Homo sapiens: one gene and its partner. The protein of the gene in region 1 interacts with the protein of each later gene in a biochemical or structural test. Each region holds a gene or a part of one and is shown in the gene's direction. Other genes may lie near its edges.

Region 1 (3,500 bases):
CTCATGGATTCTGCTGTCAGTGGGTCCTAAATGAGAATACCTTAAAGCAGTGATTCTCAAAGTGTGGGCCACAGAATGCTGGGGTGGGGGTGATGGTAGTGACCGTGTCACTGAGACCCTTTTAGAGGTGCACAAGTTTAAAACTATTTTCATAATTACACTAATTTGATATTCTCCTTATTCACTGCGCTGACATTTATATTAATGGTGCAAAAGCAATGATGGATAAAACTGCCATCACCTCTGCGTGAATTAAGATGGTGAGTGACTCCATTTGGGAGGCCGAGGTGGGTGGATTGCTTGAGTCCAGGAGTAGGGGACTAGTCTAGGTAACATGATGAAACCCTGTGTCTACAAAAAATACAAAAAAATTAAATAGGCATGGTAGTGCGTGTCTGTAGTCGCAGCTACTCAGGAGACTGAAGTGGGAGAATTGCCTGAGGCACGGAGTGTCGAGGCTGCAGTGAGCCATGATTGTGCCATTGTACTCCAGCCTTGGCAATGGCGTGAGACCCTGTCTTTAAAAAAATAAAAAAAATAAAAAAATAAAAAAAAAGGATAATGGCTCCAAGCCATACTATAAAAGTCATTGCATATTTACTTTCACACACTTAGAGAAAGAACAAAAATAAACCTATGTCATTGTCACTTAATATCCTTTATGAAACAGTAACAATTACTATATTACATTTTGATCTTTAAAGCTCTGTGTGATGAAGTGGGAAATGTGCCTAAAATGCTTCTGCTGCGGAAGAAAGTGGAAGAAGAGTACTTGTGCAGTTTTTTGAGTTCCAAGCTGAATTTGCTTTTTTTCATAGAAAACTATTTTACTTGAAACTATGGTTTTACTTAAAAACTATGGTTTTTAGGCATGGGTATTTGGCAGCCATTTTCTCAGAAGTGAATGAATTGAGCCTGTCATTTCCAGGAAAACAACTGACATATGTTGCCAGTGATAAAAATTGAGATTTTAAATGAAAATTAGAATTTTGGAAAATTGGTATTTGCTGCCATGAGCTGGTCAGTTTCTCAGTATTTAAAGACTTTCCTGAAGAGATTGGTGGTGATATTAATGAACGTGAATTTTTTTGATATTGTGTAATGTCAACATTTCAAAGATCTGCGTAGCTTATTGCAATATATTCTAAATGAGAAATGCATGATGTTAAGTGCAAAACAGAGCAATAATAAATAGATTGTATTTTATTTTATTATTTTTATTTTTTGAGATGGAGTCTTGCTTTGTCACCCACACTGGAGTGCAGTGGCGCAATCTTGGCTCACCGCGACCTCCGCCTCCTGGGTTTAAGCAGTTCTGCCTCAGCCTCCCAAGTAGCTGGGATTACAGGCACACGCTACCATGCCTGGCTAATTTTTGTATTTTTAGTAGAGATGGGGTTTTGCCATGTTGGCCAGGCTGGTCTTGAACTCCTGACCTCAGTTGATCTGCCCACCTCAGCCTCCCAAAGTGTTGGTATTACAGGCATGAACCACCACTCCCAGCCAATAAATAGATTTTAACGCGAGAGAGTAGTCAAGTTTATTTTTAAGGTTTGAGATGCCACATTGCAACTGATGTTTAAAAAATAAATATTCTTCTTAAGTTTTTGTGTTATATCAAAGAAAAATATCCACACAATGATCTGAAAAGGGTATTAAAATCTGCTTTTCCCTTTTCTTAGATACTTAGCTGTATGAAGCCAGATTTTCTTTATATTCTTCAAAGAAACAACATATTGAAACATTAAATGCAGAAGCATATATCCAGCCATATTCTATTAAACCACATGTTAAAGAGATCTTTAAAATGTATCACAATGACACTCTTTATTAATTTTTTTTTGTTTTAGGAAATACAGTTATTTCTGATTTTTAAAAGTGTTGTTTAAACCTGTCGTGCCGGACATGGTGGCTCATGCCTATAATCCCAGCACTTTCGAAGGCTGAGGTGGGAGGATCACTTGAGCCCAGGAGTTCAAGACCAGCCTGGGGAATATAGTGAGACTCCGACTCCAGAAAAAATAAAAAAATTATCCGAGTGTGGTGGTGTGCGCCTGTAGTTCCAGCTACTCAGGATGCTGAGGTGGGAGGATCACTTGAGGCTGGGAGGTTGAGGCTACAGTGAACTGCGATCATGCCGTTGCACTCCAGTCTGAGTGACAGTGAGACTGTCTGAGAAAACAAACAAAACTAGTAATAAAGTAAACGTCATTTTAACATTTTAAAATTTAAGATTCATTTTTAATTCATCTTGTAATGAATTAAAATATATTTAAAACATCCATTTTTATTATACATTTGATGGTCATACCCCATCTAAACAAAAGCTCTTTGTGTTCCTCAGTAACTAAGACTGTAAGAGAGGTCCTGAGACCAGGAAGTTTGAGCCCTGCTCTGTTAAAGGACATTAAGAACATGATAATGTCTCAGAGTCTTTGGGCCAGTAGGAAGAATGTCAGATCATAAGATAGTAGGTGGCAGATTTATACATTTATAGTTCTTCATTTTGGAGTACCCATAACAGTTCAGAAAAAGCCTCCCTTTAGTAAAATGTAAAAATGAAGAAAGTACTTATTAACTGAAGTTAAACTTCTAAAAATAGGTCACTATAGATCTACTGATTTTTTTCATGTTTATGACAGTCTATCTAAGCCAACTTCAGAGATTGGGCTCAGGATGGTAGATAAATTAACCTCTGTCTCTTCTTTGGCCACAAATTGCACATCTATCCCTAGCCATTTGACTCAAGGGGAAGTGGGAAAAAGAACAAGGATGGATAAACATAAATATACCATTTTTAGAAAAATATTTAAAGCCTATGCCCCAGTGATGAGTAAATAGCATGCACTATATGGTACTAATGAGTACATTTGAATGCTTATATGCTATTTATGTTCCTTTTGTGAATTATTTGTCCATGTGTTTTATGTTTTTCTTTAGATTGCTTACATTTTTTGTTTTGATTTACAAGAATTCTTGACAAATTCTGTATACTGATCCTTTGTTGATGATGTAGGTTGAAGATTTATTCTGAGCCTATGGCTTGGTGTGGTAGCCAGCCTCTAAGATGGCCCCTTGTTCCTTTTCTCCTGTTATTCACACCGTTGTATGGTTGCTGTCCAGTTGCTCAAGGCTGGTCTCCGTGACCAAGAGAATATAATAGAATTAATAGTGACTTTATTAAAAAGTCATTAAAGCCATATATACAGTTTTTTCCTTGCTCTTTGAATCCCTTGTTCTGGGTGAAAAACAGCTGTCATTCTGTGAAAGATACTCTAGTAGTCCTTTAAAGAGGCCATATGGAGAAAAATTGAGGTCTTCTGCAAAGACCCAGCACCAACTTGCCAGCTATGTGAAAGAGCCGCTTTTGAGGTAGATTCTCTATCCTAATCAAGCTTTCAGATGACTGCAGTCCTTCCTGGCTGACATCTTGACTGCAGCCTTCTTAGAGGCACTAAGCCAGAACTGCCTGCCAAGTCCCTCCCAAATTCTTTTTTTTT
Region 2 (3,500 bases), on another chromosome or scaffold:
ATGTACCATATAATTTTTTAATAAAACGAGATTGCCCAGTGGGAAGTGGGATTGAGGGGGACACAGATAGGGCTTCATCAAGAAGTTATAAAATCAAAACACAAAACGCTTTATAGCAAACGGGGCACAGGAGTACACCAAGGCTCCAAGTTTCACTTCCATCTTGAGAATCTGACAGGTGCACCTGTCTGTTTCTCCGGAGCTCTGTTAAGGCAGGTTTGAGGAGGTCTCTTCCCTTTGTTGTCATAGGGAAAAGTAGATTTGGCGCTGATGTTGAGATCGACAACCACAACAAAAGACCTTCACATGTTTGTCTTTCCTTTTGTCTGCAGGGGGTGCAGCTTTTATTTTCCCAAATACTTCAGTATATCCTGAAGCTACGCAAAGAATTACAACTAGGCCAGGTACGAAAACACCCCTGTGTGATCTCTTCATTGAGAGACATCCCAGATGTCCTGCTGAGATCCGTGCCCTAAGTCACGTGATACAAAGAGAGCTGATCCCGGAGCTGAAGCCAGTCCCAGACAGTCTTATTCTGCCTCTGTTGATTTGGAGACTAAATCCACTCAAACCATTTCATTCAAAGACCACACTAAAGGAATTAAGAGCAGATTAGCCCTTTAACTAGCTTTTCAGAAAGACAGATGGGCAAAGAAGGCATCCTGGATGCCTGGCAGTTAGGAATAGGCCGACTTTTGAACTAACAGAAGGATCTGTCCCTCCTCGGGGGAAGAGCACAAAACAAGGACACTCCCCAGATTCACAGTGACCGATTATCAGTATGTCACAAGAAGCCAGTCTTGCAGAGCAGAAGCATGCAACCAGTAGTATTTACATCTGAATCTTACTGCCTGTCCTCCAAATGATTTAATTAGGTAATAAATTTACATGCCATTCATGCAAAAATAAACATCTATCAAGTGCCCATTAGTGCCAAGCGTGGTGTTAGACTCTGGGAATATATAGATGAACCAGGCTTCAGTAAGCTTCCTGTCTTCAGAAAGTTTACTTCTTCATTCAGCTTGGTTTGTTCATTTGCTGAGTGCCTCCTCTGTGCCAGCCACGGATGGTATGATGGTGAACAAACCGAAATGTTTTGCCTCCAGTTCTAGATGTTTCAGTAGAGTGACCTAGAGCCAGAGAGACACATATGTACACATAAATGTTTTCCCTAATGTGATAGATTTTATGGTAGAGGAACCACTTCTAGCAATACAGGGCGTAGGAGCAGGGGTGGGGAGGAACTCAATCCCCCATGAAAGGCATAAAGATGCTTTCCAGAGGAATGGCCACATGGCAAAGGGGAATTAGATGTTTGCCAGACGAATAATGAGCAGGGAGAGAGGGCATTTCCCAGAAGGGTATAGCTTGCCTTTAGCATTTGTCCTCTCCCTGGGACTTACATCAGCCCGATAAGCTAGGTATCATTGTACCAGCCTCACAGCTGATGACATTGTGTTCAGGGTGGTGGGATGGTTTCTCCATATTCATACATGCTTCCAGAATTCATGTTAAACTCTATCACATATCCGGAATACACAAGTCTCAGTTCGAACTGGTTCAAGATCTAGGCTTGGCAACTACTCTTTCTTTCTAATGAGAAAGACTGGGGGCCCAGGGAGCTAAAGAGAATGAATGAGGAAGCTTCTCAGGCTGTTCAAATACTGACACTGCCCTGGTTACTGCCTAGTGACTTCAGGCTGGCAATTTTCTCTTCTCTAACGTCAGAGAAAAAGTTTACTGTCTTGCTCCTGGGAAGCATGATGGAAAGGCTTAGCAGCTAAGGGGTACTAAGAGGTAGTAAGTCATCTCTGTCATGTAAAAGATTTCACAGGCCATTGAAACATGGGCAAGACCCAGTGCCTAGAGTCTGCAAGATTGGTCCTAAAGACATCCACCACGTGTATTGCGAGTGGAAAATAGAAATTCATGTTTGACTCAAGCTTTAGAGATTTTGTAATTCTGTGAGCATTTAAAAAATATTTCCATATAAACTAAAAAAATAAAAACTATTTCCAAAACATTTGGCTAGGGTTTTAAAAATTTTTTTACTTTTTAATTTTGTATTTGTTTGTTTATGTTAAGACATCTCATAGGTGCCTCTGACTGAGTTGCAAAGCCAGGGGTTGTGAGCTAGTATTATAAACTGTGTTAAAAGATCACAACACTGGCCAAATTCATTGGCACAATCTCTCTGTCAGACAAGCCAGCTGACTGATGCTACCTGGTTAAGACAGTGGGTCCTGGAGCTGCTTTGTTTTCACATTTTAGGATATGGTGGATTTGGAAGGTATGGCCCATCCAGGTGGATGGAGAAGAGGGTGACTGTGAGGATGTTGGTTGGGACTCCCTCTCTGCCCAACCCAGGGAAGGCAAGGGTGGCAAACTCAGACACCTCCCATGCCGCTCTGATGGTGGTCTTCCATGGGCCCATAATTTGAGCGTGACCTGGGAGAGAGCACACTTCCACAGCTCCACTACTAGTCAAGTATGTTTTCGCGACTCAGTTTGTACCTGAAATAACCTGTTTTGACCACTGCTACTGTGATTATGAGAACCAATACAAATATTGGTATCTGACCTGTAAAGAATTTAAAGCAGACTGAACAAGCCAGAGGACTATTTACTGTAGGCCCTATTCAGGGACTTGAACTTGGAGATAAGAACTAGTTATACACCTCGGGTCATCCATTGCTAAGCGATCAACCTTAAAGGACTGCTCCTGTGGAGATAAAAGCTGTGAACCTGCAACTGGAGAATGAACGTCGTGATGGCTGAGGGGGAAGAGCTTTTGCATCACTAACTTTCAGAGCTGAACGAGCTCCAGAGGGAGGTCACTGGGAATCTGACGATATCCCTGTGGTCAGTGGGTACCTGACTACTTTCAGAAAGGTGATTGTTGACTGTTTCTTTGAAGGTCCTTGGGGATACAGACCCAAATCCCTGTCTCCTCCACTCTTGGTTTGCTGTGCCATGATCTTCATTTCCATACCCTTTGTCTAATCCCACATCCGAGGGAACCGAACTCTGGTCAGCGTTATTGTGCTGACCATGAAGCAAGCCAGGCTCCTAGGTAACAACTCTACTTAGACCAGAATCTGTCTCTTCTCTGCATGGTGGCCGTTTCATTATAGAGTCCCTGATAGAGGAGACAGTGGTGTTCAGGGTTTACTGGTTAAATTAGACAGCATTCCGCACCCTTTCTGCAGAGACTCCTACACATGTGTGTTGTCCTGCTGCATCCACCTTCCCAGCACTTCCTCACCACCCTTCCCTCCTTCCCTTCCCACTGTGAGTCACCCATCCCTGGGTTACTGCCCCAACCTACCTTTTCTTTTCTTTTATCTTCTTTTCTCTTCTTTTTTTTTTTTTTTTTTTTTTGAGATGGAGTCTCACTCTGTTGCCAGGCTGAAGTGCAGTGGTGCAATCTCGGCTCACCACAACCTCTGCCTCCCGAGTTCAAGTGATTCTTCTGCCTCAGCCTCCCGAGTAGCTGGGGC

Evidence for each region.
Region 2: the proteins of TRIM33 (region 1) and ERG form a complex in vitro, tested with the Homo sapiens proteins (one large-scale study listed by BioGRID).

What each region holds. Positions count from the first base shown.
Region 1 is NC_000001.11:114,501,204-114,504,703, reverse strand, and holds part of TRIM33 (E3 ubiquitin-protein ligase TRIM33), read left to right. Parts: intron 1-3,500. UniProt on the Homo sapiens protein: Acts as an E3 ubiquitin-protein ligase. Promotes SMAD4 ubiquitination, nuclear exclusion and degradation via the ubiquitin proteasome pathway. According to PubMed:16751102, does not promote a decrease in the level of endogenous SMAD4.
Region 2 is NC_000021.9:38,397,478-38,400,977, reverse strand, and holds part of ERG (transcriptional regulator ERG), read left to right. Parts: intron 1-332; coding exon 333-404; coding exon of another isoform or gene 405-616; exon of another isoform or gene 617-906; intron 907-3,500. UniProt on the Homo sapiens protein: Transcriptional regulator. May participate in transcriptional regulation through the recruitment of SETDB1 histone methyltransferase and subsequent modification of local chromatin structure.